3 linked regions of the Homo sapiens genome follow. The protein of the gene in region 3 interacts with the protein of the main gene of each other region in a pairwise test. Each region holds a gene or a part of one and is shown on either strand. Other genes may lie near its edges. The genes, in order: SYTL4, APPL2 and TBC1D1.

Region 1 (10,567 bases), on a different chromosome or scaffold from region 3:
CATGGACAACCAGACTCTGGGTTTGCTGCTCATACTTCAGGGAAAAGGCAATCCTGCCAGTCACAAAGATGTTCCCGAAATCACCAGCTTCACTGTAGATGCTCATCATGCTGCCGATCGTACTCTGAAGATAAAGCACCCACGAACATCTGGGGAAGGCACACTCCCCCGCCCGCATTGCTCACATCTTCCCTCATGATAAAACCACAGTCACTGAACAGAAGTTTCAGAAGCCCCTGCAATAAGCCAGTGCTGCTGACATTCCTTGACCCAGAGGGTAAGAGAGAACTACCAGCACTCAAAATTGTTCAGGTGAATGAATCAGCTCATGGCTCACCTAGCCTCTTAGCTTCTCTTCCTCAACTCTTTTTACAAATTTTAGTGTTCATTTTCACCTGCCCCAGGAGGTGGGCAGGGAGCAGAGGCAAGGTGCAGTTAAGTCCATCTGGGGAATGTGTTATATACACTAAAACACCAGCTAGAAGGGGGTTAGTTACTAACTAAAACAAGGTGCCTTAATTATCTGTGGGTTTCTCTTATCCACCTTATGTCTTATCAGGGCCTACAGAGAAAAGAGATTTGGCCAGAACTGGGAGTGAGTGGGAGGGAGGAAACCCCACCAGAAGTGAAAAGGCACCTTCCTTTCTGGTAGTAATCGGTCATGCGAGCTGACATTCTCTTCCTGTGTGTGAGTGTGAACAAATTCTGTTCACCCTTGTTCCTGTTTCCCTAAATATCAATCTTCATGCTTATGACAGAACCAGGCCCTGATTCTTAAATGTTCCCTTTAAATTCATTATCCTGACTGGTATTATTGCTTGTTAACCATACCCTGATGTCGATCAACCCTGCCAGAGCCCCTCTCATGACACTCACTTTCTTTTAATGTTGAGAATTTGGAATGGGCTATGATGAAGAAATCTGATCTTGCTCACTTCATAGCCTGGGTACCCCTTTAGAGGATAAGTTAAGGTTATTGTTCACAAAGCTGTGATGAAAAATGTCCCAAGCTGTAATGTAATAATCTCCAGGTGGGGGCTCAGGAAGTCACCTAGATGTACACTAAGCACCTATAGTCTAAATTGAGGATAGGAACAAACAAATGATCTTACTTACCTGAAAAGAGTGACTAGGATGGTTTCCCCAGGTCCCGAATCTGCTCTAGGGAGGTGCTTCTTTTCTTCCTAGTACCCCAACATGCCTGTAACCACAGATCTAATAGAACTTACCATGGAGGAGCCACTTTGCATGCTGCTTCTGGCTAGCTTCTGGCGATGTAACTTCACTAGGTGGTCAATGTCTTCTTCTTCTTCTTCCTCTTCCTGGAACAATAAATATAAATTCAGAGTTAATAAAAGAAAGACTTTTCTTTAGCTTCAAAGACTAATATCTTTCCTTTAAAGCTCCAAGTTGCCATGTGTATGTGTACGCACACATACTTCTTTTTTTTTTTTTTTTTTGAGACGGAGTCTCACTCTTGTTGCCCAGGCTGGAGGGCAATGGCGCAATCTCAGCTCACCGCAACCTCCGCCTCCTGGGTTCAAGCAATTCTCCTGCTTCAGCCTCCAGAGTAGCTGGGATTACAGGCACCCGCCACCACACCTGGCTAATTTTTGTATTTTTAGTAGAGACAGGGTTTCTCCATGATGGCCAGGCTGGTCTCAAACTCCTGATCTCAGGTGATCCGCCTGCCTCGGCCTCCCAAAGTGCTGAGATTACAGGCATGAGCCACCATGCCTGGCCTCATATCCTTCTTTTTACATGTCTTCCCATTTCAGGGTTCCCAGCTCTATTCCAACCATCCTTCTCATATCTCAAAAGAATAAGATAAGAATATTTAATGTTTTTCATAGAAGCTATAACTCTTTTCCATTTGACTTTCCCCAACCCTGTTTACATTTTAATCAAAAGAAGTATTTATTTGAGCCCCAGCCATATATCCAGCAATTTATTAGAAAATAAAAGAGATGGTCAGGCGTGATGGCTCATGCCTGTAATTCCAGCACTTTGGGAGGCAGAGGCGGGCGGATCACTTGAGCCTAGGAGTTCAAGACCAGGCTGGGAAATACAGTGAGACTCCCATCTCTCAAAAAAAAAAAAAAAATTAGCTGGGTATGATGGTTCATGCCTATAGTCCCAGCTACTCAGGAGGCTGAGGTGGGAGGACAGCTTGAGCTCAGGAGTTCAAGGTGGCACTGAGCTATAATTGTACCACTACACTCCAGTCTGGGAAACAGAGTGAGATGCTGTCTCTTAAAAAAAAAAAAAAAAATTGGGAGGCCGAGGCAGGTGGATCACCTGAGGTCAGGAGTTTGCGACCAGCCTGGCCAACATGGTGAAACCCCATATCTACTAAAAATATAAAAAATTACCCAGGCATGGTGGCGCACACCTGTAATCCCAGCTACTCAGGAGGCTGAGGCAGGAGAACTGCTTGAACCCAGGAGGCGGAGGTTGCAGTGAGCCGAGATCGTGCCATTGCACTCCAGCCTGAGAAACAAGAGCGAAACTCCGTCTCAAAAAAAAAAAAAAAAAAAAAAAAGAGATAGCAAAGACAGTCCTTTCCTTTAAGCAAATCAGGAACCAGATTTACTTTAGAAACTTGGGGGTATCAAGTTTCATGTTGCCTTTTCTTAAAGAATTAAATAGGTTGACTGAGAATATCAGGTACTAAAGCCAACTCCAGATAAGTAAAATTTCATATAGTGACCAAGTAAAATATAAGGGCACCTACCATATCCACATTGAGGCCTGGGACGGATTTGCTTCTGTCTCCCAAGGAGCCACTTTCATGTACCACATCTTCTGGGCGAAGATCTATCACAGATTTAGTGTACTCTGAGGGGAAGACCAAAAAAGCCAAATCAAAGAGACCTATTCTTCTCCATACCAAGAGCCCATCAAGGGTACTCAGAACTTCAGTCCTGAAAGACCAGTAAGGGAAACCAGTTACCTGAAGGCCTGAGGATTTTTCTGGTGTTCTTCTTAAATATCATCTCACCCTCATCCACAAATACCACATTTTGACCTCCAGGCTGAGTTTCCTAGGAAGGAACAAGGGCAAGAAAATGGAAAAGAACAGATGGATAGGTAGAAGGAGTGAGTAAGGAAGGACAGTCTTAAGAAGAATAAGGCTCAGATTTTCGCTAAACTATGACAAACTTAAAGGAAAGATTAAATGCCTAGAAATAGTACAAAACCTATTTTCTCACACATTTCAAACAAAACTTCAGAAAATGCTCCCAAGTGAATTTGAACTGAAATTTGTTTAGTTGAAATTCCTGATTTAAATTCTGCCTAAGAGAATGGAGGGAGGGAGGGAAGAAAGAGGAAGAGAAGAGTGAGGGGGAGGGAGGGAGGGAAAGACGGAGGGAGACAGGAGGTAAAGGAGAAAGGGAAGGAAGGGAGGGGAGGAAGGTGGCTCAATAACCTGAAGCTTACCTTTTCTACTTGAGATTTGGGAGCAGACATCTTCTTCCATTCTGGAAAGAGGCCAGATTTATCCAGAGAGTCTCTCCTGGAGGTAGATTCAGAAATTATAACTAAGTCACCTCCTACCCTTCCCCTTCTACCCAGGGATCAAAGCTCTATGGAAGGAGAGCCAATGGCTTGGGTCATCGTAATAACCAAATTCAGAAGGTACACTTCGCATGTGATTTACCTGGAAGGAATGCAGAAGATCAGATAGGCAACTTTGCACAAACACAAACACTCACACCCTCATTCTTAAGGGACAGCAGCATCAGTTGCTACTGGGCTAAGAAGAATACTCCAAGATACTGGGGGAATTGACTAGAGATGTCAATGTGTTCCAGGAAGCTGTGCTCAGAGCCAAATCAGTAGACGTGCTACTGAAAAGACTTCTGTTGAGGACAGAGAAAATACTTCGTTCAACTTCCTGAGGACAGAAGTCAGGAACACTGATGCTGCAGAACAAAATCACAACTTGGGTTGAGAGGAGATGAGGGAAATGGGGGGAACCCCACCTGGAGGTGCTATCCGAGTCAGCTGTGAAGCTATCCAGACTCTCACTCTCAGCTTCCAATGCACTCTTTCCACTTTTCAGCTTTGGCACTTCAAATAGCACACTAGAATAAAAACCAAGAGCCAATATTGAAAGGAAGCAGGTTCTCCTGCCTCTAGTCAGGCCTCTTTCCAATCCATTCACAATCGTAGCCTGAGTGATCTTTCTAAAATAAATATGAGTATACTTTAAACATATAATAAATTAATTAATTAAGAAATAAGGTCTCGCAATGTTGCCCAGGCTGGAGTACTGTGGCTATTCACAGGTGCCATCATAGTGCACAACAGTCTCTAACTCCTAGGCTCAAGCAACCCTGCTGCCTCAGCCTTCTGAGTAACTGTACCATGGTGTACCAGCTGAGTACAGGCATGTACCATGGTGCCCAGCTGAGTATACTTTTTTTTTTTGAGACGGAGTCTCACTCTGTCTCCCAGGTTGGAGTGCAGTGGCGCGATCTTGGCTCACTGCAAGCTCCGCCTCCTGGGTTCACGCCATTCTCCTGCCTCAGCCTCCCGAGTAGCTGGGACTACAGGTGCGTGCCACCATGCCCGGCTAATTTCTTTGTATTTTTAGTAGAGATGGGGTTTCAATGTGTTAGCCAGGATGGTCTCGATCTCCTGACCTCGTGATCCGCCTGCCTCGGCCTCCCAAAGTGCTGGGATTACAGGCGTAAGCCACCACACCCGGCCCTCAGTATACTTTTAAAACTCTTCAGTGGTTCCCCATTGCTGTTGGGATTTAGCTGAAACTCCTTAGCATGGCAAGAAATCCTCATGATTTGGCCCCTGCTCACCCTCTCCAGTCTCATTTTTCACCCCCTACTCCTCCTTCAAGCTTTATATTTTAGAAAGACAAAGTTATTTTGTTTCTCTGAATATCCTGAAGCTCTCCATCTTCCCTCTTTTATCTGCCTAAGATATTCTTTTCACAATGGCCACTTTTCTTCACCTGCCTCAATCTACTCCTGCTTCAGGTCTCTCCTTATATGTCAATTCCTCCAGATCTCTCTGGCCATGCCCCCACCCTAAGTCTCGATTAGTAACCTTCCTCTGTGCTCCCATAGCATCCTGATTTCCTAGTAACAGTCACCACATATGTAACTATTTATGTATTTTAAACAAATTATTTATTTGGTTCAATAATTTAAACAAATTATTTAATGTCTTTCTCCTCCATTCGACAAAGTTCCATAAGATCAGTGACCACGTATCTTATTTACTGATGTGTTCTCAGTGCCTTGAAGAGAGACTAGCATAGAGTATGCACTCAAGTATTTTTATTGACTGAATTATTGAATAAATGCCCTCAGTGGGACTGAGATATATCCATAAATAAGCAGTATGTCTAGAAGACAGTATTCAGGTGACCAGAATTCTTTTTTTTAGCTTAATCGCCTTAATGAAGGATGACTCTGGGCATTCAAAATACCAGTTCTCATCTTTCAAGGGAAGGATACGGTTCCTCGGCCCCTTACCTCAAAGAATTAGTGAGAGCAGCAGGAAAAGGGGGAAAAAACATCGATTCTTCCTCAAATATCTCAAATAACTTCCCTTGGCTCCCCGGACACCACACTCTCCTGGTTTCCTCCTCCAACCTCACTGGCTGCTGCTTCTCAGTCTCCTTTGCTAGTCCTTCCTCCTCCCGTAGACCTCTAATATTTAGATTATGTCCAAACTTCTTCCTTGGGCTGCTCCTCCTCTCTATCTAGAATTATCCCTAAATGATCTCATCTAGTCTCATGGCTTTAAATATCCTCAATAAACTAATAACTCAAATATATTTATTTTTATTTTTTATGTTTTTTGAGATGGAGTCTCTGTCACCCAGGCTGGAGTGCAGTGGCACAATCTCGGCTCACTACAACCTCCACCTCCTGGGTTCAAGCGATCTCCTGCCTCAGCCTCTTGAGTAGCTGGGATTACAGGTTTGTGCCACCATGGCTGGCTAATTTTTTTATTTTTAGTAGAGACAGGTTTTCACCATGTTGGCCAGGCTGGTCTTGAGCTCCTGACCTCAGGTGATCCATCCGCCTCAGCCTCCCAAAGTGTTGGGATTACAGGCGTGAGCCATCATGCCCGGCCTCAAATTTATCTCTTACTCAAACTCCAGACTTGTTTTTCCAATGGCCTCCTCAATGTCTCCACGTGGATGTCTCAAACACAGCAAGCCCAAAACCAAAGCCCTAATCTTCCCCCAAAACTGCTCTTCGCTCTGTCTCATCAAATGGCAATTCCCTTTCATTTCTCAAGTCAAAAACGCTAAGAATCATCGGTTACTCCTCTTTTTCTCACAATACAAATCAAATCTGTCAGCAAATCCTCTTCAATGTATACCTAGACTCTGATACGTTCTCACTGCCTCCACTGCCATTACTCTGGTCCAAACCACCATCATGTAGCTCTTGGATGGTTGCAGTAGCCTCCTAACTAATCCTGCTTCTTCCCTTGGCTTTGACTTTCCCTCAACAGCCAAAATGAGCTTTTAAAATGTAAATCAGGGATAGAACTATCATATGACCCAGCAATTCCATTCCTGGGTACCTACCCAACAGAACTAAACAATATATGTCCACACAAAAATGTTACATGAATGTTCATAGCAGCATTATTCCTAATAGCCAAAAGATGAAAACATCCTAAATGTCCATCAATGCATGATTAGACAAATGAAATGTGGTATATTCATATAATGGATTATTCATCAATAAAAGACAATGAAATTCTGATACATGCTGCAACATGGATGAACTTTGAAATCATTATGCTAATTGAAATAAGCCAAACACAAAAGGCCACATATTGCATGACTGCATTTATATGAAATGTCTAGATTAGGCAAATCCATCAAGACAGAAAGCATATTAGGGGCTGGGGTAAATGGAGGTGGCTACTTAATGGCTATCGGGTTTCTATTTGGGATGGTGAAAATGTTCTGAAATTAGATAGTGGTGATCTAATTTCACAACATTCTGAAAGTACTAACAATCACAGAACTTTATACTTTAAAATTGATTAAAATGATTTTATGTTATGTCAACTTTACCTCCATTTTTAAAAAGAAGACAAAATAAGGCTGTGCCCCTCAGAGCCATCCTTCTTACTTGGAGTAAAAGACAGAATGCTTACAAGTGCCACCAAAGTCTTAACATGATCTGCTTCTCATCCCATCTCTGTCCTCAACTCCTTCCTCAGCCTCCCTTGCTCACTCAGTTTCAGATTACTCAAAAGTGCCAAACAAAATCTCACCCTAGGGTCTTTATACCTCCTTCTTTCTCTATCTACATGCTCTTCCCCCAGATACCCTAAGGGTTTGCTCCCTCATTTTTTTCATATCTTTGCTCAAACGTTACCCTGTTGTTAAGACTTGCCCTGGCTATCCTAAACAGTATATGTACACACATTCATTCCTGGCACTCCCTATACCTTTGGTCTACTTCATTTTCTCCACAGCACCTGTCAACATCTGATATACCATACATTTACTTGACTATCTTTTTATCTCCCACCCCGGAAATCTAAGCCCCACAAACAAGAGGCCTTGTATTCACCAGTGTATCTCAGGGTCTAAAACAATGCCTGGCACATAGTAGGCATTCATAGATATTTGTCAAACAAACAAACTAATAGATGCACAAAGAATGAGGTAACCAAAATCTATAATGTCTTAGCCAGTAAAGAATAAACTCTCCAAGTTGTCACATGATGTTTGACAGTTCTGTGAAAACAGACAGCAGGGCTGAAATCCTAGTACTTACAAGAGGTGAAATGTCAGTCATTCCTTGAAAGATGTATTACTTGTATAGCACAAGACATAGCAGGGGGGCTTGATTTCATTTTTTACTTTAGAATTGTCCTTTTTCCCCTTTTGTCCCCACCCCCACCCCCGCCAAAAAAACCCAAGCAGAACCATTCCTCCAGAGAGGTAGTTTTAACAATGGTCCATGGAGAGTGGTTTTTCCTTTTTTTCCTAAAGATTAATACATACCAATCCACAGCTAATACAAACAACCCAAGGGCAGAAAAGCAATTATTTGACATCTGTGCAGTAAAAAATAGACTAAGAGATGGGAGCCCTGGGCTCTAACTATCTGTATGATCTCAGGTAAATCACTTATCCTGCTTTCTTTTCTGCAAAAATAGGGTGGTTGAATTAAATTATCTCTGAGGCTCCATAATTTCATGGGAAAGATCATTTATGGTCACTTAATCTGTTTTCATGTTTAGGATAAATAAGAGTCTTCTGGGTCCAATGAGACAAGAGATCACAGACAACCAGAAGCAATAGGTTTCAGAAATTACATTCTGACTGATGATGTCAGATGTGTTAATCAGGTTCAGCAAATAAAAGCCATTCTTATCCTTAATCCACAAAGAAAAAAGGGGGCCTCATCACCTGGAACGGATGAGTCACCCACCCAAGGCTGTGTAGATAAAAATCACAGTCCATATATACAATGAAACATCATACAGATGTCAAAAGAATGAAACAGATCCTTGGTGCTGACACAGAAAGATGTTCATGTTATATCCTTCTACAATTTTTTTCTTTTACGCTTTGAGTAATAACTGACATAAATAAGCTGCACATGTTCAAGTGTGCAACGTGACATTTTGACAAATGTAGACATCTGCGAAACTATCACCACAATTAAGTTAATGAACATATCTTTCACTCCCAAAGGTTTCCTCCTGCCCCATTCTAATCCCTCCTGCCCTTCCTGTAAGTGTTGATCTGCTTTCTGTCACTGCTTTCTAGTTTGTATTTTCTAGTTTTTATACAAACAGAACCATACAGTATGTACTCTTTACTGCTTGGCTTCTTTCACTCAGCATGATTATTTTGAGATTCATTCATGTTATTGCGTGTATCAATAGTTCATTTCTTTCCATTGCTGAGTAGTATTCCACCGTATAAACAAATCAGTTTATCCATTCACCTGCTGATGAGCATTTGGGTTATTTCCAGGGTTGGGCTATTACAAATAAAGCTGCTATGAACATTCACGTAGAAGTCTTTGTACAAACATACGTTTTCCCTTCTCTTGAGTAAGTACCCAGGAATGAAATGACTTAATCACAAGGTAGGTGCACAATGAACTTTTTAAAATACTGCTAAACTGCTTTTCAAAGTAGCTATGCCATTGTACATTCCCACCAGCAGTGTATAAGAATGCTAGTTGTTTATAATAGCAAGGAGGAAATGTAGAAAAGAAAATTTTTTTTAAATCCAGTTGTTTTACATCCTCACCAACAATTGGCATGGTCAGTCTTTTTAATTTTAGTCATTCTAATGGGTATGTAGTAGTATCTTATTGTGATTTTTAGGTCAAATTTATTTAATGACTAAAGATGTTGAGCACCTTTTCATGTGCTTATCTGACATCTCTATATTGTCTTTGGTGAAATGTCTGTTCAAATTTTTTGTGCATTTTCTATGGGATTGTCTGTATTATTGAGTTTTTAAAGTTCTTTTTCTTTCACTTTTTTTCACTTAACATGTTTATAGTATCATCCTTTAAAGAAAAAGAAATTAAAAACTTAGGAACCCAACCCATATATGTATATTTAGACAGCTTGGTAGTCCATATGCCAAAACTATTCACAACTATTAACGATAATTATCTGGGGAAGAAGCAGTGAGGTTACTGGAGGACTTACTTTATACATTTCTATGCTGTTTTTCAACAATCATATGAAACATGATAAAGTCATTTCCCTTTGGGTGAGTGAAAGTTAGGGGAAAAAAAAACCACACACACACCATACAAAAGCTAAAAATTCACCGCCACAACCAAATGAGTCAAAAATAAAGCCTCAAGTCACAGATTTCAAAAATCGCACCTAAGAAAACAGAAGATTTAATTCAGCAAAGCTCCTTAACTAATCCTTTCCAATGTAGCAATTTGCAGATTAAGTGAGTGAGTAGTCAAGAAAAACAGAAGTCCTCAAGATTTATAGCCCCAGGTACCACTGTAGAACCTCAACAGAGACAGACAAGACTGATGCAAAATGTCATCTCCCAGGGCACTGGTATGAGCTAGGGGATTAACCCAGATCTGGGACAGGTAAGCCCTGAACCAGGACATTTAAGAGAATTTCATGAGACCAAAACTCAGGACTCCAAGTTGCCTTCTGCACCTACCCCTTCAGGTTACAAGGAAAGAAATATAAAAAGCAATATTCAGTCCTTAAACTAAAGTACAGCTGGGAATGGGGAAAAGATAAATTGTTTCAAGTTAAGGTGAGAAGAACTCACATATGCTATATCAGAGGAAACAAAAGATACAGACAAAACTTCCCATATTAAAGTTCAGTAAAATGAAATAATAGTCTGGCAGATATATAAATAGCCATGAAGTGGAGAGAAATGAAAACAATTTGCAAGATGGATGAAGAACCGAGTCTGGAGAAGAATTTAACCCTAGGAAAACAAGTAGGTTTCATGTGAGTGCTTTACACTACAGGGGAACTAATAATATAAATTCAATAAAGTGCAAGAATTCAAATACAAGATGATAAAACAAAATGAGAGAAAGAAGAT
Region 2 (10,567 bases), on a different chromosome or scaffold from region 3:
GGTGTCTCCCTTGGAAGCAGAGCCCATGATCTCCCAGATCATTCCAGCTAAATTGTACCCTTCTGCTGCTCTTTCCACTTGAATGGGCAGTTTTGCTTTAACGATATAAAGAAACACATTATTTCTAAAATGCCACCAGTACCCATAACGAGGTAGCAAGACTTGGAGGTGGCCGCTGGTGCTTTCTGGTACTAATGGGCTTTTTAAAACACAACTCACAGCAAAACAGGGCTGGTCACCACCACCTGGGAGAGGCTTTATTTCTTCACCCAAGGCGGGAATCTCATGTGTCAGCCCAGGGGAGCCGTGGCTGGAGGTTTGATCCAGGACCTGGACAACTGCTCAGTGATGGCCGTGGATTGCGAAGACCGGCGCTACTGCTTCCAGATCACCACGCCCAATGGAAAATCGTATGTTTCACGCGTTTTATTTGGGAGGAGAATGAGTATAGTGGTTCCACCCGTTCCAAGGGCCTCCTAGTTCATTCCTATGTGCCAGCCCTCTGTGGGAGAGGCCCCAATCTGGGTATTGTTGACCTTTCAGGAGGATGATTTTCTGCTCTCTTTAAACAAGCCCGCATGACCCATAAGGGATCCAGCCTGCCTTATCCCATATGGAGATAAGTGAGGGTTTGTCTGTGGCTTTGGAGAAGAGATGACCTACGTGTGTGAGACAGCAACAGAAGTCGTGCTTGTTAGCATAGATTCTCAGAGAGAGAAGGCTGTGGCTACTCCTAGCCTGTTGTAAAGAAGCATTTGTGTTTGGATTGCAGCAGGGGAGAGTAACTATTTTGGTAAGGACGACCTTCCTGAGAAGGCCATTTTTCCAGCAGAAGCAGGAGTTGTGAGAAGTGTACTCCACTGCAGCAGCATCGTCGGCTGCCAGGCTGTTCCCACATGTCCTGTGTACCTGAGGGGCCCCAAAGAGGTGGTACTTTACCAATCCGCAGGCTGTGGCCATTCACAGTAGATCCCATCCCAGTGGGATCCCCTCTCAGAGTGGTGGTTTTTAAACTGCTCCAAGGAGTTCAGGGTCCCATGGAGGGGCTTCAGGGTCCCATGGAGGGGCTTCAGGGTTCACCTGCCTGGGGAGAGGAGTGGCCCTGCCCGTCATCAGAGCCGCTCTTCTCACACTGCATTCTATTAAGATTTGACCTGAACAGCAGGGGTAGGGGTGGGGACGGCATTGGGATGATGTCTCTCCTCCCAGCTTGGCAGAGCAGCTTTAGACCTCATCCTTCCTGCTTTGGTGATGGGAAATGACCTGGGAATGGAGATTCCTGGATGCTCATCATGGTCCTTTGCAGTTACCTCCTCTGGGCCTCACTTTCCTCAGATATAAAATAGGGATAAGATCTATGTTACTCCATCTGCCACAGATGAGAGGAACAAGGGAACTGGCAGATGTGGGGTCTCTTTAAAAAGTTAAAGCCTCGGCTGGGTACAGTGGCTCACGCCTATAATCCCAGCACTTTGGGAGGCCGAGGCAGGTGGATCCCCTGAGGTTGGGAGTTTGAGATCAGCATGACCAACATGGAGAAACCCCGTCTCTACTGGAAATACAAAATTGGCCGGGCACGTTAGTGGTGGCGCATGCCTGTAATCCCAGCTACTCAGGAGGCTGAGGCAGGAGAATCGCTTGAACCTGGGAGGCGGAGGTTGTGGTGAGCCGAGATCACACCATTGCACTCCAGCCTGGTGCAACAAGAGCAAAACTCCATCAAAAAAAAAAAAAAAAAAAAAAAAAAAAGAGTTAACGCCTCCACAAAGGTAGGGCAGTATTACTGTTACCTTATTCCCGGGCCTCCATACGCAGCAGACTTTTCAGTTCTGGGAAAGGAGTGAATGGGCTGCCAAGTCCTTCTTTGGGCATGGTTTGAGGAGTGGCTGGGCTTGGAGTCCTGGTCATCTTGGATCATTAGAGGAGGTCAACAGGTGGATCTCACTGTACAAACACAGATTTGGGCTAGAAGATCCGAGTCCCGCCTTCTCATTTCATAGATGAACATGCTGAGGCCCAGGGAAACGGCCATGTTTGTCCAAGATCACATAGTGAATCAGGGCAGAGCCAGACCTACAAGCCCATTTTCTTTTTTCTTTTTCTTTTTTTTTTTTTTGTTTGAGATAGGGCCTTGCCCTATCACCCAGGCTGGAGTGCAGTGGCACAGTCACCACTCACTGCAGCCTCAGCCTCCTGGGCTCGATCGATCCTCCCACTTCAGCCTCTCTAGTAGCTAGGACTACAGGCACACGCCACCACGCCCAGCTAATTTTTGTATTTTTTGTAGAGAGGGGGTTTCACCATGTTGCCCAGGCTGGTCTCGAACTCCTGGGCTCAAGCCATCCTCCTGCCTCACCTTCCCAAAATGCTGGGACTGCAGGCATGAGCCACTGCACCTGGCCCTGGAACCCCATTTTCTTTCCCTCTCATCATGCTGCCTTCATGGCACTTTTCCTCCCACACCCCAGCTAAGTTCAGTTTATGTAGAGAAATTCCCAGTCACTGAGATCAGGGAAGCACTTAATTACTTAGACACTTTTGTTTCAGGGGAATAATCCTCCAGGCTGAGAGCAGAAAGGAAAATGAAGAGGTAAAAATTTTGTTTGTCATATTTCTTTCCTAACGTGGTGGGTGACTTTGGGATTCAGTGTTCTTTTTTAATGTCCTCTACAGTGGATATGTGCAATAAACAACATCTCCAGACAGATCTACCTGACCGACAACCCTGAGGTAATTATCAGCCACCGGCATCTCAGCCCTTTTCTCAACCTGGAAGGTAAGCGTCCACCTCCTGGGACTGAGTGTGTCTTCCTGTGGATTTTTAGGCAGTCGCGATCAAGTTGAATCAGACCGCTCTGCAAGCAGTGACTCCCATTACAAGTTTTGGAAAAAAACAAGAAAGCTCATGCCCCAGGTAACTAAAGGACAAAGAAAAACTAGCTTTTGTGGAGCCAAATTATTGATTAGGAATACGAAATGAGTTGTTGCTTAATCCACACAAACCAAGGCATGTTTTTCAGCCTGTTTAACAGAAGCAGTAACGATGGCTGGGAAAGGTTAAATACCTGCCTGTGTTCACACCACATTGTGAGTGGTAGAGCCAGGATTCAAGCCTGTCTGATGTCAGCATCCCTGTCCTTTCCACTGGACCATGCTGCTGCAGTCCAAGCAAACAGGACGTGCATGGAGGGTCCTCCTAGTCAGGAGTTCTCCCCACATTTTCTATCAGTGTCAACAAAGTAAGGGAACGAAAGCAAAAATGTTTTTAAAAAATAAGGAAAAAAAAATCGCCTTTTATGTATCCCATGTTAATGTCCACGCCTTATCTGAACATACAGTGATAGTTTTATATGTACATTTATTTTGTATTTGCACATACTTTTTTTTTTTTTAACTATTTCTACATTTTTCAGAATTGTTCCTTTTAGTAACTACACCCTATTCCATCATTTATTTTTTTACTTACTTATTTTTTAATTTTTTCGAGACGGAGTCTCACTCTGTCACCTGGGCTGGAGTGCAGTGGAGTAATCCCGGCTCACTGCAACCGCCACTTCCCAGATTCAAGTGATTCTCCTGCCTCAGCCTCCCGAGTAGCTGGGATTACAGGCGCCCACCACCACACCTGGCTAATTTTTGTATTTTTAATAGAGATGGGGTTTCACTATGTTAGCCAGGCTGGTCTTGAACTCCTGACCTCAAGTGATCCACCCGCCTCAGCTTCCCAAAGTGCTGGGATTACAGGCATGAGCCACTGCGCCTGGCCCATTCTACCATTTATTAACCATTGAATATTTAGGTTATCTCCCTGGCGTTTACTGTTATCATTTAGAGCAAACATTTTCATGCATACAGCTTTCCTCATTTTGAATAGTGCTTTAGGATTTATTCCAGGAATCCTACCTTTTGTCTTAATGGGAGTTTCCATCTGGTTAAATAGTAGAGGATTGTATTTTCATACTAATGAAAGCCTGGCATTAAAGGGTAAATTAAAATTACGACTATATTTGGTGTTCATCTTTTAGTGGCATGGTAGAAAGAACCCCATTACATTTTTTACAAATATCTAATGACCCCAGAAGGAAGTCATTAGAAAACTCAGTGGTTAAGTAACTTCCCAGAATCTGTGCAGTGTGGAGCCAGCGTTCACATGCCGGGCACGGGGTATCTGAGAAGGAATGGGAGAAGGTAAGGCCAGAAAATAGGTTTGAGTCTAACTGGAAAGACCTGGGTGCCCTGCTTAGGAGTTACAGGCAATGGAGCAAAATGGAAGGTTTTGAGAAAATGGGCGATGGTCAGAACCAGGGTTAGGGAAGACTATTCTGTACCTGAGTAGGATAAATTTTAGGATACAGGTTGTGGGAAGAAGGGGAGAGTGCAAGACCCAGTAGGATGTTGATGTAGTAGTAGCTGTGAAGCAGAACATGAGAACGTAAACAAATGTTTTTAAAAAAGAGGAGAAAGAGGCAACAAGTCCGAGAAACATTTCAGCACCGTAACTTAAGGATTTAACAGTTGATACAAGTAGCATGCTTTATGAAATGGAACTCTAAGGAAGACACTATATGAAAGGAAGTGGAACTAAAGATCCAGTCAGCGAGGGTTAATCCCGTAGCCTTCTCCTGGGTAAATGTATGTCTTCTCTTTGTAAAGTTACAAAAATGTTTGATGTGCACAATGGAGGGAATACCAGACCTGCAGTTGAGAGACATGGGTTCTAACGATATCTCTGCCTTGTGTTATACACAGCTAGATGTCCCTGAGTAAGTCAGTAAATGCTCTGGGCCTTTGTCTTCTCAGCCTTGTGACATACAGGGAACTAGCTAACCTCCTAGGACCCTTCTAGCTCTGATATGCCATCTCTCAAGGGTGTTGATGGATAGTTTAGGGGGGTTTGGAATTAGAAGGTGTGATACGTTTCCTAAAAAGACAATTTGCAGCCTATATTTAATTATTCAGTAACTGACTTTTCCCCCTATTCTAGAATAAGCAAGTCACATTCTTAGACCAAAAGGACCCCACAGAAGGGACACAGAAGACTCCCTGGGGGGAAAAAAAATGACTCTAGCCAGCCAGCTGAATTAGCCCAGTGATTGGATGGGTGACAGATGTGGCTGCCAGATGGCCCCAGAGCTGTGGGGAGAGGGATACTATCTCTTTTAGGGTCAGCCCACTGAGAATAAAGCAATGTTTTGATGACAGTGGGGGGGGAAAGAATCAGAGAAATTGTGTTCTTGGGAACAAACTGCTATTTACTTCTAAGCAAGTACCATGTGTGGACTTCCCTCATTCTGCAGTTACTATATATCTGCTGTTCATTCATTTATCTAGCTACTCAACAAATATTTGAGTATCTACTATTTGCCCAGGCCTGGCCTAGGTAAGAAAACGCAGGGATTACTGGGGAGAACAGGCAAAAGGTAAGCACAGGCTGAGTTAAAATGAGGGAAGCACCCCAATGTTAAGGAGATGAGGTGCTGTCATGGAGGGTGAAGAGGAGACCTGTGCAGGGCCTGGCTGTGAAGATAATATTCAAGCTGCAAAGTGAAAGACAAGACGCAGCCACTCTTGCAAAGAGCCAGAAGTAGTGTATTCTTGGTAGCAGTTGTGGAGGTAACAGGACAGAGAAGATCTTAGTATATCTGAGGAACTGAAAAAAGGCAGTGTAACGGGACAGTGGAGATCATGGGACAGGATGAGGGCGGGTGGGGAGGGAGGCAGGGGTCGATCAAGAAGGAAGCATGTGGGGAGCTGTGGAAGGGCTCTGAGAGGTGCGTGTTTGTGATGGAGACAGAGATACCCACTCTCCATTTTCCAAAGTTAGTTAGCTCTGGCTGCTCTGGAGAGCACAGAACAGAGCAAGTCTGTAGCCAGTGAGGAGGCGTCCCAACAGCCCAAGAGAAGATGATGGTGGTTTAGACCAGGATCACGGCAGAGATGAAAAGTAGATGGATGTGGACTTATTCTGGAGGTAAAACCTGTGGGACTTTTGATGGATAAGCGTAGACGGAAAAGGACAGATCAAAGGATGACTTCAGTTGGAGCTGAACACCTGGGCAGATGGTGTTTTTTAAAAAAAAGAAGAGTTCATGTTTTGGACATGTTAAGCATGAGAGGCCTGTGAAACATCCCAAATGAGTTGTCAAGCAGTCAACGGATGATACAGGTCTGGAGTGCAAAGAAAACGTCTGGTCTGGGTGTATGAATCGGGGACTCATAGCACTGAACAGCAGTGGATGAGGTCCTCTATGGGAGAAAGGAGAGGGAGGGGAAAGCAGAGCCTGCAACAGAATCCTAAAGAACTCCAGCATTTAGGGTAGAAAAGGAGCCTGCCAAAGACATTGAGAAGGAACATCAAGAAAGGTAGAAGGAAACTCTGTAAAATGTGGCACCAGCCGAAACCGAGAGGAGAGTTCAAGGAGAGATCAGCTGTGTTAGATGCTTTAAGTCAATTATGATGACTGCGAAGTGTCCATTAGAGCTGATGACATGGAGATCCTGTACAGGTGAAACTTAACATCATGTCACTCCTATGTTCAGAGTCTTTGGTGGCTCCCTATACTGTTGTGTCAAGTTCAGACCCCACCTGACGGTATAAGGGCCCTCTACAACCTGGCCTCACCCTATCTTGATTGTTATCTATCTCCCCCCTTTGACTCTCTGGGGAGCCAAAATCTTAGACTCACTTTCTCCCCTTGAAGCTTCTACTCATAGCTTTCTTCAGTGCTTACCACTTATTATATCACAGCCCTCTCTTAAAGACAGGATCAAACAGATGTGACTGTCCCATTTAGGGTTATTGAAGCAGTATGACATCCTGGAGATGCACTCTCCTGGCAGTGAGGAGACCCCTGTTTATAATCTGGCTCGCCCACCAGGTAACTGAGTGCCTTCAAAACTGCTCAATTTCTCCAGAGGCCTCAGTTTCCTTTTCTGTTAACAATGGAGGTCAGACCAAGTGGTCTCCAAGGGCTTGCCTTGCAGTGACCATCTACAAGCCTATGTACTGTTTCATCCACATTCCAGTCATTATGATCATTTGTCAAATGCCTGTTGTAAAGTAGTTTGATACACTACATTCAGTTATTGACATGTTTGAGAAATAGGAAAATATTGACATATCAAATGAACAGAAAGATCACTGAGAGCTTTTTAAGGTCCAGGCAATGAAAGAAATCAAAATACATTGATATTCTTTGCCCTTCAAAGGAGTTTATAGTCTGGCTGAGGAGAAAAGATTTTTAAAACGTTGAAAAGTTAAATTACAGTATTCTGAGACTGGAGGAGAAGAACATGTTGGTTCCTGATTAGTCTGTCCACAGAGAGCACAGTATTTGATGGGCCACAATGTCAGCAATGAGTGTGGGCACAATGCGAAGCTCAGGAGGCACACAGGGCCGCAAGACTGTGCCTGTGACTTACTGAGAAGAATCACAGGAGTTCAGAGGAGGGAGGCGGGGTGCCGGCTGGCCTAGTGGATAAGGAAGAATTTGAGCTGGGTTGGGAGAGTTGGGTGAGCAGCAGAATTGGGATAAAGATGGAAATAAGGAAAAGCATGTGGTATGTGTGGTACAGCTCTCGTAGAGGGTGCATTAAAGGAGTGGAAAGGGAGGCTTTTGGGGAAATTAGAGCCAGATGGTGATTAAATGCCAAGCCAGGACCTTTGGTTCATTCAGCTAACATTTTTTAGTGCCTACTATGTTCCAAGAATACATATGACTTAGCTATAGCATAGGCCCTCCAAAACCTGCCTCACAGAGAAGGATACAGACAGAAAACTAGTAACACAGTGCAGGATGCTGTGCAGCAGAGAGAACTGCAGGAAATGGGGCAGACTGAAGGTTTTTAGCCAAGGATATGAAGGAAGTTTGAAGAAGGTTTATTTGTAGAATGGATTAAGGGATTGAGGTCAATCTTTCCCCTTGTATTTTCATTCATAAAAGTCACCTCAGCCTTCAACAAGTATTCACTTGATTATAAAAGCGTAAGGTTAAGGGAATTGATTTTTTTCCCCTTCAGCCAGAACCTGAAAAATTCAGAGATGGAAAATGAAAATGACAAGATTGTTCCCAAAGCAACAGCCAGTCTACCTGAAGCAGAGGAGCTGATCGCGCCTGGAACGCCGATTCAATTCGATATTGTGCTTCCTGCTACAGAATTCCTTGATCAGAACAGAGGGAGCAGGTATGGGCTGAGAGAGGTTATCTCTGGGAGAACTGAAAGTAAATTTGAGGTATCTTGTGTCCCCCTCCACCACCAAAGACTGTTGCCATTCTGATTTCCAGTTCAAGTGTTAAGTGCCCTTCTAGCTGCAGCTGTCGTGTTTGTTCAACTCTGGCTATTCCCCTAGGCGTACCAACCCTTTTGGTGAAACTGAGGATGAATCATTTCCAGAAGCAGAAGGTAAGTGACTAGTTTGGTGTCCTTATTCTTTCCTCTGCACAAAATGACAACGGCCATTGAAATAAGATGTGAAATCATGTTTTAGAGAGCTATGATTAGGAGTATGAATTAAGATTTGTTGTTCTGAAAGTTTAGTAAGATATCTGCAGTGGAGGCAAGTCTTGGATAAAAACTGAGGGGTAGCTGAAAGACCACCTACAGCTATTTCACCATTAGCCATAGCGTTTTTGTAGCATAGCATAGAAATGTTGTGAAATCTGAATCTGTTATCACATTCAAATGCAGTCTTGGTGAACTGGAAATACGCTGTGTCATTTTAGAAAACCAAAAGCACAAATAACTTGTTCTTGAATTTGAAGATGACACAAATGATATTTAAGTCTTTCAAATTCAAATTTTTGGTTTTTTACATTCTTATAATGTACTTAAGAACGTATCTGATGGCCGGCACGCTGGCTCACGCCTGTAATCCCAGCACTTTTGGAGGCCGAGGCAGGTGAATCACGTGAGCTTAGGAGTTCAAGACCAGCATGGGCAACACAGTGAGAACCCTGTCTCTACAAAAATATATATATATATACAAAAATTAGCCAGGTGTAGTGACAGGTGCCTGTAATCCTAGCTACTCAGGAGGCTGAGACATGAGAATCACTTGAACCTGGGAGGCGGAGGTTGCAGTGAGCTGAAATCATGCCATTGCACTCCAGCCTGGGCTACAGAGTGAGACCCTGTCTCAAAAAAGAAAAAAAAGAAAAAACCTTCTTTGGTCTTCTAGTTATGGTTGCTGGGAGTCAGTTTTGTCAAGTTATGCGCCACTGTCAGCAGCCAGGACTGACTTCCTTTAGGCTATGAAACATCATCACTGCCTTTCCGTAATACACATGAAGTATGAATTGCATGAGACCCAACATGAGATCTTATATCCTGCAAATAAAATTTCTTTTCTAAGAGGACTTTATCAGTGGGCCAAAGTAATGAATTTTCTATTGTCTAGTGAACTCACTCTTTTCAGAGAAAAGGTACAATGTAGTCACCTAGAGTTTCAGCATTAGAAGGATGTTCATCTGGTACCACCATCATTTCATTTTATAGATGAAGAAAAGCCTTTCTAGTCTAATGAAGTAGTTCCAAACAAACTGACAAGATGTAGACAAATGGAAGACGCAGAGCTTTGGCAATATTGGGCTTATAAAAGTGGTATTGAGAAATTTTGGTAGAAAGTCCTCCACAGAAAGCAGGCAAAACTAGCACATCTGACCCTGGTATGCAGATCAACAGCAGCAGGAAGTAAATGAGATCCTGAGTGGAAAATGCTGTCTTCCAGATTCTCTTTTGCAGCAGATGTTTATAGTTCGGTTTTTGGGATCAATGGCAGTTAAAACAGACAGCACTACTGAAGTGATTTATGAAGCGATGAGACAAGTATTGGCTGCTCGGGCTATTCATAACATCTTCCGCATGACAGAATCCCATCTGATGGTCACCAGTCAATCTTTGAGGTACGTTCAGTTTTATTTTCAGACTTTCTTATGGCTTCAGCTAATTCCCCTTTTAAGGCTAATGCACCCATCTGAAATGTTAGTACTGGAATGAAGAGACTACTCTTGCTTTTGCCCCCACTACTTTTTACATAAGATAGATAGCCTAGAAAGTGCTCCCTTAGAGACAAGAACTGGTATCTTCAAAAATCCAGTGGTGAGTGAATACTGTTGTTCACAAAGATGCCATCACACTAGACTTATTCTCTATATTATAGCTCAGAGCTTGAAAATGGAAGTTTTTTGGTTTTGCTTTTTTTTTTTCATTTCTGAGAGTACTATTTATAAAAAATAATGGAAAAAAACTTAAAAATCTGCCTAAATAACTTGGCCATCACAGAGAGAGCAGGCCATATTAACTACATGATTTAGTGTTTCAGGTAATACGATCTGGGTTTCAGATATGACCAAAATCCTGGTTATGAACATGGGTGTATGATACTGTAGCCACAGGTAGCATCTGCAGCAAAACTAGCCTGAACTGAGATGTGTTTTCAGTGTTAAATACATACCAAATTTCTAAGATTTAGGATGTAAAACATCTCACTAATTTTTTAGGTTAATCACATGTCTGGTAATATTTTAGATATACTGGATTAAGTAAAATTAATTTTATCTGTTACTTT
Region 3 (10,567 bases):
TAATGGTTCATATCCCAAAGGACAAGATAGAATAAGAGCCAAGAATGTTTGAGTTAATCACTTAAAGCAGAAACAGATTATGAAGATCAATCTGCATTAACAGAGCAGTGGCAGGTCAACGGAAGGAGCAACACACTGCCAGAGCCAGAGGCCAAGTGAACACCAAGTTCAACTCAGGACTCCAGGAGGGGCAGAGGCTCTTCGGAGGACAGGACTCGGACCAGGGGTTCCCAAACAGTGACGAGGGCAATTCCCCTGGAGAAGAGAGCTAAAGGAGGCAGCAGCTTCCATGGTCCTCTGTCATCTGAAGGGCAGGAAACAGATGCAAACACATTTCCGTGTGGCTTCAGAGACCAGAGAAGAAGCCAGGAATCAGAGGACAGGGAGGCAGGATGCGGCTCAGTCTGTGAATGCTCGTTTGAAAACTTGGAACTGTTCTATGATGGAGCAAGCAGTCATCTGTGGCCCCTAACGCATCCTGGCCACTGCACAAAGCATTTCCGAGCAGAAATTTCCAAGCGACCATGCCCTGTGAGGTATGGCCACCGCAACACCGAGGCACTCTTTATTAAACACCGAAACTTGGGTTCTGGCACCCCTTTCAGACATGAATCAGCTTCGTTCCTCCTCCAGGGCCTCCCTCTGGTGGCTCTGGTTCCCACTGCTCCACTCCACACCCTCTAACAGGGTGCTACAGGACCTGGGAGGAAGAGCCCTTCTTTGCGGTAAGCAGACCTCTCCACGGGGCAGGGGAAGAGAGATGTGGCCATCTGGCTCACACTGGCAGGAAGAGAAATCAAACCCTGGCTAGGCTCAGCAGCTCCACCGAGGGGCCACCCACGGCAGGAATACTTTATAGGTACAAACTACTTGAGGGAAAAAAGGTGCTGGTGAGTGGCAGCTCCATGGTGCCCCCACATAGAAAGGCTGGGGCAAAAGAAGCAAGGGGCCAGGCTCACCCGAAGGACTTCCACAGCATGGGAGGTGACATTACCCTGGAAACATTCGCATCACTGATTTTCTTTCCAGTACTATGAATTTTGAATGCTTTAAAAAAAATGTATCAGTAATGATATCATGCTGCCTTGTCTCTATCAGTGTGGCAACAGGCATAATTAATCCCAGGTTATAGGTGGTAACTTTAGACAGTTTATTCTAGTTCACAGCTCCTAAGGGGAAAAGCTGGGATTTGAAAGCAGACTCCGAAGCCCACGCTTTGGTTACAGCGGGTAGCTCGTCAGACATGAGGACGGCAGGAGAGGGCCCTTTCCAGATATGCACCAGCAATGTCAGGCGACCATCAGGTGTTGGTCAGGCAGTTGTCAACTGTTTCTCTAAAGTGATCGTTGGTCACAGCGGGCACCAAGGAAGGGCGGGCTCCCAGTAGATAGAAAACACCTAAAACTGGGGAGCTGCAGCTTCCCAATAAGATCTCGGGAGCTGGGCGAGTGGGCTCAAGCATGCGCATTAAGAGGCAACATGGCGGAATTTACCTGGTGCATGACGTTCCTCTAGGAATGCTAGACTGGACAGGGAAGAACGCCTCAAGTGAGCACGCCTACAACTCCAGTAAACACCCTGCGCACGCTCCCCCACAACCCCCGTGTGCTAGCACGCCAATGCACATGCGGACAGCCCACCCCAAGGGAAGAATCAGAGAAGAAGGAACGCAAGACCCCGGAAGTATGGCAGCATATAAAACCCCAGGTCAAAAGGCCAAATCTCACACTTCATCTCTCAAGTTGCCCGCCTAACCACCTTCAAAGTGTACTTGACGTCCTTTCATTCCTGCTCTGAAGTTTTTAATAAACTTTCACTGCTGCTCTAAAACTTGCCTCAGTCTCTCCTTTTGCCTTATGTCCTAGGAGGCAAGAAGTGAGGTTGCCGCAGACCTGTCTGGATTCACCGCTGGTTAACACTGTGACCACTCTAAACATCAGAGCTCTGCTCCTGTTTATGGAGAGGTTACCCTAAATTAGCTTTAAATTCCTTCCCTAAGAAATGGAGGGTAACCTCTAAATTCCCTCCCTAGTTACCTTTGTGATTGCCTCAGACCTGCCAATACTGAAGAGGACGGCGCTCTGCTTTCTTACCAATATGATGGGGCTCCCAGGGTCCTCTGTCAGCGTGCTCTCTTTGAGGTTTCATTTCAGGTACCGGCCTTACCTTCATATCTGCTGGAAGAATCGCACGCCTTCTGCGGGGTGGCTACTCGGAGGAATATCTGCTGCCTCCAGGAATGCCTCCGGGTCTTCACAGGAGTCCCACCAGAATCACCAAGATGGTTTGCTTTGGATTCAAAGTCCCTAAAATTATAAGATGATTGATTTATGACTAGTGGGGAGGAATTCACGGGATTTTGTTAGCTTAACATTTTTTTAAACAAATCACTAAATTATCAACTATCTTTGTATAAACAAATAATCAATCACAGAAGTTATATCAAGCTCACAGTGGGTCATCATTCCTAAAGAACTGCTTTCTTACAGAATTCTTTTCATGAAAAGAGAAAGATTACATGCCCTTAAGTGATTTCGATTGTAACAGAGATTAAGAAACATGTTCCACATATCATAGTTCCAATTGGGCCTCTCTTGGTGCCACTTTGATAAAGAGAAACTGCCTAAAGGGGGAAAGGGGGTGATGCCAAGGGGCCCCATTCTGCCCTCTTCTGTGCATGGGAATATCTGCTCAGCACAGGCCCATGTCTCCAAGGATTCCCACAAAAAATGAAAAAACTTGCAATTTAATTACACAGAACCAGCAAGGCAATAACTATGCAGTCACTTGATGATGATAATTGTTTTAACGTGTGTATTTTTTAAACTACAAAATACAGTTATCAATATATAAACACAATCATAAATGTTTTCTCCTATTCACAGGACAACCTGAGAAGGCCCTTCCAATTTATACCCAAGTTATGTACCTGTAAGTAAGCAATCCCCTCAACTTACAGATTAGACGTCCTGAACAGATCAGACATCCTGATTTGAAACAGACATATGCTCACTAACCAGAAACACTGGTCTCAGAGACTTGGCAAAGACTTTTCTTAAGATAACACTTAAACTAATCCTCGTCAAAACTAGAGAACAGGTTGGTTGCACATTTTTAAAAATGGCATTCAGTAAGAAAAAAGTATAAGAAAGAAGATACAACAGATTTAGCTGAAATGATTTTTTAAATGGCAAAATAGTAATTAAAACACCCTTGTATATCTAATGATATTCAACACTTAGTAACACCCAGGCTTGATATATCTAAATTAAGCCCTACCTTTTTGTGTTCATAAAATCAGAGGTGTTATTTTCATCTACAGGAGCCAGAAATTTTAGAAAATTTGGCACAGAGGAAGAAGAATGAAGTTTTTTCCGCAGGGCATTACGGTAGGAGATGCTAAGAGTTTGGTTGAAAAAAGAGTTTAGGATAAAGAAACATAAAAACACAAAGTATAAAATATAAGCTTCAAAATAAAAGAAACATTTTTGTTCTAATGCTAAGAAAAGAAAACTAGGTAAGAAATTAAAAGTAGTTCACGAATGAGATTTAATTTTCATTTTCACCAATAAAATTTGATTTTAAATGAATGGGATCAATAATTTTTTAAAAAAGAAAATCCATCCATTTTCCAAATAACTCTTCCTTTCAAACTGGGAAAAATAATTCCCCTAAATCAATCAGGAAGTTTCTGATATGGCACAAATTGCAGTGTACATGATCAAACACAGATGTTATCCTGTGTGTGTGTGTGTGTGTGTGTGTGTGTGTGTGTGCGCGCGCGCGCGCGCGTGTGTGTGTATATACGCATGCATGTAAGTGTCCACTAGGGCAAGGAAATGTGAAAATAAGTATAAAAAAACAATTTGCAGCAGGGTGCAGTGGCTCACACCTGTAATCCCAGCACTTTGGGAGACTGAGGCAGGCGGATCACTTGAGGTTAGGAGTTCAAGAACAACCTGGTCAACATGGTGAAACCCCATCTCTACAAAAAAAAATAAAAATATTAGCCGGGCATGGTGGCGTGTGCCTGTAGTCCCAGCTACTCGGGAGGCTGAGGCAGGAGAACTGCTTGAACCCACAAGGCAGAAGCTGCAGTGAGCCGAGATCACGCCACTGCACTCCAGCCTGGGGAACAGAGTGAGACCCTGTCTCAAAAAAAAAAAAAACAAACACAAACACAAACCAATCTGCCATTAAGATCTGTTTTCATAATAATCTTAAGAAAAGTCATCAATAGTAAAATTAACTTGGTTCAAATGACAGCTGAAAATAAGACAAAATATAAACAAAGACACACACGCGCGCGCACACACACACACACACACACACACACAGTGGCTCTGCTTCCTGCATGGACATTCCCCCCATTCAGCACATCCTCATCAGTGTGAACTCCCCAGGAAAACAGACAACACCAAACTTGCCACGTGAGTGTGCTCACCTCTTTGGCACAGCATTCCCACTTTGTTCTCCACTGGAATTATGTTTTAGGTACTTAAAAAAGTTTGGCGAGGAGGCGGAGGGGTTAAGACGAGGTGGAGGAGCAGGAGCTGAAGACTGACCTGGGCGGTGCTTAGACTCACCCACAGGTGAAGGATCCACACTAAACAGCAATCAGAGAAAGCACGGGGGGGTTAGCAGGAGAGGGGGCGCCGACAGGGACACGGAGCAAACAGGTGGAAGGAGCACACCGCTTTTGTCTCGTTGTTCCAGTAACACTATCAGAGTGGAGGACTTCTTCCACTCCTTTTCCTCATCTCTGCTCGCTCTCTGGCAAAGGTAGTTTTCAGTGAAAAACAGAGTATATTGACGGCCGTTCTTGACCATTTCCCACGTGTTTATGCTCCCAACAATACTTTTTTTTTTTAATAGGTCTCACTCTATCACCCAGGCTGGAGTGCGGTAGCACGATCACAGCTGACTGTGACCTTGAACTCTTGGCCTCAAGCAACCTCCCACCTCAGTCTCCCAAAGCTCTGGGATTACAGGAGTGAGCCACTTCGCCCAGGAACAATAATATTTCTTTCTCTATTTTCTTTTTCAGGAACTGGCAGGAAAAAAAATTTTTAATTAAAGTATAAACAAAAGCAAAAAAAAACTGAACTTTAAAAAATACATTTCCCTTTAAAATGAACAATATCCTGCCCTGAATTTCAATGTCTTATTTCCTGTAGATAAATCGGAAAAGAGCTCACAAGGGGGAAAGAAAGCAGAATGGGCCATGCTAGAGAGGCAGACAGACAGGCATCTCCTCATCCCTCCCATTACGGATGTGTGACATCATCTATTATAAAGCTACATTCTTCATGGAGAAAGGAAAAGTACTGATACTAAGTCCTATCAACTCTGGCTTTTGAGAAACAGCAGACTTCACAAGAGAACTAGGACTCTCCAGACAGGAATGTTTCAATGATCACTGAAAACGCCAACAACAGAGGAGTGGGCAGGCAGTGGTGAGGCAGCACAGAAGTAATGTGCAGACAGGGTGTTAAACACAAGAAACTTACACAGCTACAACCCAACGATGTGTGTCTCTAAAAGCGTGTATTTATTAAGCAGTACCTTCTGACATGTCCCCTGCTTTTGGGATCACCACTACCCCGCTGAATTCCAAAGAACCAAGAACTCTTTCCAATGGCTGACAGAAAACAAAGCTGGGAGGCTCTGCTCCATCATCCAGGACTGTTAATGCTCACACTTCTTTACTCAGAACATTCCAAACACTTCTGTACTAACTCACACTCTCAATGATCCGTGTATGAACTACACGAACACATAGGTCCTGGGACTTCTGCGGCTGCTGGTCAGAAGAAGGCAGCGACTGTACACAGGTGTGACCTTGATTCATATTAGGTGAGAGATTTTTAAAATTGTTTAAAGTTGTTTTTAAAGATAACTGTGTCCATTTATAGTCTCTGGCACACAGAGTTAAATGAATCACTAAGGGACACTTGGAAGGAATGGGGGGAACTTCTGATTACTCTTCTCCATAACCAGACGATTCTAACTGGTCACAGGAACCCAACTATTACAATGAATAAATCTTGTTAGAAGAATCTAGAATTCTTACAGTGAGAGATTTTAGAAAACATCTACTCCAATTTTGTTATTCAGAGAATTTAGCAAATTCGTCCAGGTCACAATTAGTTCACGGCAGAGCTAGGACCAGAAGCTGAAGCACCCCTGTCACCCTATGAGGCCAGCATACCTCTCTTGCTCTGCCTGTAAGGATCAGCGCCTCTCCCTCCCATTATAACCCTGCTCCAGGGCTTCAGATGGGGAGACTCATCCGCTTGCCCTCTTCCTCACAGCAGCAAAGTTCCACAGTCAACAACGTCTCTTACTTTGTTTGAGGAGTAATGACTATGCATGTTAGGTACCATTTTTGCTCACTTTCACTTGCTTCCTGACAATACAAGTACCCATTGCTTGTATACTCACAAGCAGCTCGAACGAACATGTCACTGCTTCCAGTTTTATCTCCAAACCAAGAGTAAAGCCTGACTCATTTCTCTCACTCAATAAACATACCTGGGATGCACATACCTGGCTAGTCACAGATATGCCCCAGCTATTTATGCAACAAATTTAAACAAATCTTACTTTCGTTCATGAGGCGTCTCTGTGCTCACTGAGTGATACCTCATAAGTTTCCTTTGCGAAACCCCCGGGGACCCCCGGGCAGGTTGTGGAGGTTCCTGGCATTCGATGGGGAAGTGACTCAGGGTGTTTGCTCGCCTCCTGAAGGCCTGCTGGGGCGACAGCGGAGCTGGCTCTTCTGGGAGATGACTCTCCGAGTCACTGGACAGGTCCTCCGAGGAGCCGAGGAGCTTAAAGGAGCTCTCAGAGATGGGCAAGGCCTCCTTTTCACACACAGATGGCTCCTGGGAGCAAACACACAGCAGATCAGACACACCATGGGGAATATGTGGGATTTATAAATCTCTAGTTCCTGCACGGGCAAACATTGCAGTATCTAAGTATGTGTTCTGATTATAATGCCATCTAGAAGCCACCACCAAAAGCAGAAGAAAATGAAGGTCCATTAAATAAATGCCCGCTCCTCAAGGACACACTGCTGGCTTGCTGGAGAAATGGGGAGACTGGCCAAGTGCAGGAGTGAAGGACATAAGCCACAATCTGTAACGTTCTGAACAACGCCATGAATAGTGCCCTCTCTCTAGAAAACAGGACTGTTTACTGCAGCTTCTAAGGGGTGTGAGTGCTGGAGAACTTGTCTCCACTGCTTAACCAAGTTCTTTATCTTTGCCACATGTGTTCACTCATGTTAAACCCACATTTTAAGGCTCTCTCCGAATCTGATCTACTGTTGAGATTCGACTTCATAATTTGAGATTAAGAACTGTATCAATATTCTTAGAATATGGAAAATCACTCTGTAGGCACTTACTGCTGCAATTCAGGGCAAATAATTTCTTTCTGCACCTCAATTTCTTCTGTAAGAGGGTAAAGTAAAAATGTATCTGAGTTTCAAGAACAAAGCAAGATGATACAACCAAAAGTACTTTTTATGTTGTAAAATGTTACACAAACATAAGTTATTGTTTTATTAGGTATGCAATAAATCTATGGAGTGAGTGCTCAAACATTTGTTGAGAATCATGACAATATTTTAAAGTTGTATGCCTTCACGATGCACGCTTTTTCAAAGGAATGAACTACTACCACTCAAGCAAACTGATGTTTAACACTGCACCCAGGACGTGGCTAGTGGCCAATATATTTTTAATATATTCAAAATATTCAAAAAGAGGAATTGTAGCAGCTTGCTCCTATTGAAATTGTTGGAAGAGAAAAAATAAATCAACAGGAATAGAGTAAACAAGAATGAATGCATCTAACAGTGGACTGGAGACTGAATTCTACCTGTTCATTTACACAGTTGAGTGCCTTTTAGGTAACAAGTATTGAGGGTTTTAATTTGAAAAAAAAAAAAAAAGAAATGTGTTTACCAAAGGGAGAAGTTACATACATTTAATTGTATAAGAATTAGGAAAAAATTCCCAACATACTATGAAATATTGATTACTTTCATAACTGAAGTTTTTCATTCTTCAGGACTCAACAGTTGTGAAGATTCTTTTAAGGATTTAAAAGTCTCTCTAAGACAATACATCACAGAACACAATCTCCATCATGCAAACCTGTTGATCTAAATTCTTACTAATATCCCTCCAAATCATATCAAAGAGCTAACCCTTAGCTTAATTGGACAACTGAAAGGGCCATTTTCATTTGTCAAGTTTCAGGGCTATTTGGTTTCTTTGCAACTCCTAGGTGATCAATTTTTTAGAAGGGATCCAATTACATAAAATAGAATATAGTAGTTTCTCAATTCAAGATGAATAAAAGAAAGATGTAAAGTACACTTAAACATATACAATACATACAAGCAGCTTCTGAAAAGTTGCATCTCTCTTAGAATGACTCTAGAAATTGCAATCTTAGACAGACTTTTAAATCCTTTTAAAAGAATCTTCACAACTATCGAGTCCTGAAGAATGAATATGTATATATTCCTAGATCTGCCTTTTGGAGAAAAATAAAAAGCAAGCAATAAGGCTTACTGGAAAGCCCACTGAGTGACATGAATGTCTTCATGGTATGTCTATTGACACTGGTCTGTCTAGAATGCCTTCTTCTCTGTTCACTTCCATAGGCACAATTCCTACACCAAGATTTAGTCCAAAAGCATCACTGCCCCCTCACCCCTCACCTTTTCCCTGGTTCCACTGACCAAACCTAACTTCCCTTCCCCTTGCTCTTCTGACACTGAAGTTACCAATGTCTCTTATTTGTAACTTCTGGGCTCCTACCACACTCTGCTTGATGCTGGGGCTGTTTCTGTATCTGTCATCTCTCTCCTCCTAGGTAACTTCCTACATGAAAGGGGCGGTGTGTGGTTCATCTGTACACAACAAATAAGCAAATAGCCTTCCCACACTTGCAATGAATTGCAGGGTGGGATCAGTGTGTATTAGATGGAGGCTGGACGACACTATGTTCCCCTGGATTTTAACTCAGAAACTCACATTTACAAGACTGCTGTCTAGGACCTCACTCCCCAGAGGCGGTCTGCAGACCAGGAGCAGCAGCATTGCCTTGGAGCTTGTCAGAAATGCAGCATTTCAGGGCTCCCCCCACCCTGCCTACTGAACCAGAATCTGCACTTTAACCAGTCTCAGCTACTCAGGAGGCTGAGGCAAGAGAATGGCCTGAACCCGGGAGGCGGAGCACCTGAAATTTGAGAAGCACTCATCCATCTAAGGAAGTGTTTCTCAAACTGCTCCCTCTATCATGTTAGTAGGTGGTACAACTGAGTAGTTTGCCATGAGCATTTTAAAAATAAAATAGAACAAAATATCAGTATGTATTGTATGTTGTTCACAGTAAATATTGTTTTGTGAACTTTTAATTTTGTGTGTGAATGTGTAGGTATGTGTGTTTGTGAACTACGCCACAATGTTAAATGTGCTTCTTACTGTAGGTTAGAAAAATTCTGAAAGCCATATGTCTAGGAGGGATGGCAGAGGACTGTAAACCCTGCCTGTGGTAAGGAGCTGGCCTCCACAAACACTCCCTCCCTCACTACTGCCAAAGAGAGTCCTCTGGTAGCAGAAGGGAAAGCTGGCCTCCCTAGCACAAAACCCAAACCCACTTTTCAGGAGTTATAAAGTTGAACTGACCAGGCTTAAATATGATTAAATGTCTAGAAAGCAAGTTATTAAAAGAAGGACATAGATACTTGCTTATTTAAATAAAACAGTAATGTTTCATTATAATCATAGAGCCAGCTACAGGATAAAGTTTCAGAAATTTAATTTCCCCACAAGTGGGGGAGAATGAAAGGGGGTGTGAAGGTTGAAAAATTACCTACTGGGTACAATGTTCACTATTTGGGTGATGGGTACACTAGAAGCCCAATCCCCACCAGTATGCAATATACCCATGTAATAAACATGCACATGTACCCCCAAATCCAAAATAAAATTTTCTTAAAAAAAGAAAAATTTAAGCTGTATACTTCTCTAAATTCACAAATCCACTTTCTGATGTTTTCCCAATATTAATTATTTTTTTAATAGGAAAATCTACTGCTTTTTTTTTTTTACACAGAGTCTCTCTCTGTCACACAGGCTGGAGTGCAGTGGCGTGATCTTGGCTCACTGCAAGCTCCGCCTCCCAGGTTCATGCCATTCTCCTGCCTCAGCCTCCCGAGTAGCTGGGACTACGGGTGCCCGCCACCACGCCCGGCTAATTTTTAATTTTTTGTATTTTTAGTAGAGACGGGGTTTCACTGTGCTAGCCAGGAGCGTCTCGATCTCCTGACCTCATGATCCGCCCGCGTCCGCCTCTCAAAGTGCTGAGATTACAGGCGTTGAGCCACTGCACCCAGCCCCATCTGCTCTTTTATGTAAAACTTTTATGTTATGATAGAACTGCATGACCAGTCCTCCACCTGTGCCAAGAAATTTGCAAGCAGCAAACGTTTTATGATTGGAGGTATGTAGACAGGAGATGAGCAAGACCTATTTGTTGGTTT

What was found.
Region 1: the proteins of TBC1D1 (region 3) and SYTL4 interact in binary tests that used the Homo sapiens proteins (3 or more experiments, as listed by UniProt).
Region 2: the proteins of TBC1D1 (region 3) and APPL2 interact in binary tests that used the Homo sapiens proteins (3 or more experiments, as listed by UniProt).

Annotation. Positions count from the first base shown.
Region 1 is NC_000023.11:100,687,122-100,697,688, forward strand, and holds part of SYTL4 (synaptotagmin-like protein 4), read right to left. Parts: intron 4,089-10,567; coding exon 3,987-4,088; intron 3,518-3,986; coding exon 3,442-3,517; intron 3,045-3,441; coding exon 2,954-3,044; intron 2,839-2,953; coding exon 2,735-2,838; intron 1,323-2,734; coding exon 1,230-1,322; intron 125-1,229; coding exon 1-124. UniProt on the Homo sapiens protein: Modulates exocytosis of dense-core granules and secretion of hormones in the pancreas and the pituitary. Interacts with vesicles containing negatively charged phospholipids in a Ca(2+)-independent manner.
Region 2 is NC_000012.12:105,187,608-105,198,174, reverse strand, and holds part of APPL2 (DCC-interacting protein 13-beta), read left to right. Parts: intron 1-221; coding exon 222-410; intron 411-2,547; coding exon 2,548-2,590; intron 2,591-2,648; coding exon of another isoform or gene 2,649-2,673; coding exon 2,674-2,730; intron 2,731-2,825; coding exon 2,826-2,914; intron 2,915-8,019; coding exon 8,020-8,184; intron 8,185-8,350; coding exon 8,351-8,403; intron 8,404-9,727; coding exon 9,728-9,902; intron 9,903-10,567. UniProt on the Homo sapiens protein: Multifunctional adapter protein that binds to various membrane receptors, nuclear factors and signaling proteins to regulate many processes, such as cell proliferation, immune response, endosomal trafficking and cell metabolism.
Region 3 is NC_000004.12:38,045,938-38,056,504, reverse strand, and holds part of TBC1D1 (TBC1 domain family member 1), read right to left. Parts: intron 6,888-10,567; coding exon 6,607-6,887; intron 4,607-6,606; coding exon 4,445-4,606; intron 3,400-4,444; coding exon 3,280-3,399; intron 2,307-3,279; coding exon 2,167-2,306; intron 1,831-2,166; exon of another isoform or gene 1,755-1,830; coding exon of another isoform or gene 1,516-1,754; intron 726-1,515; coding exon of another isoform or gene 539-725; exon of another isoform or gene 356-538; intron 1-355. Other genes in the region: uncharacterized protein LOC124900692, read left to right, coding at 539-725, 1,516-1,754. UniProt on the Homo sapiens protein: May act as a GTPase-activating protein for Rab family protein(s). May play a role in the cell cycle and differentiation of various tissues.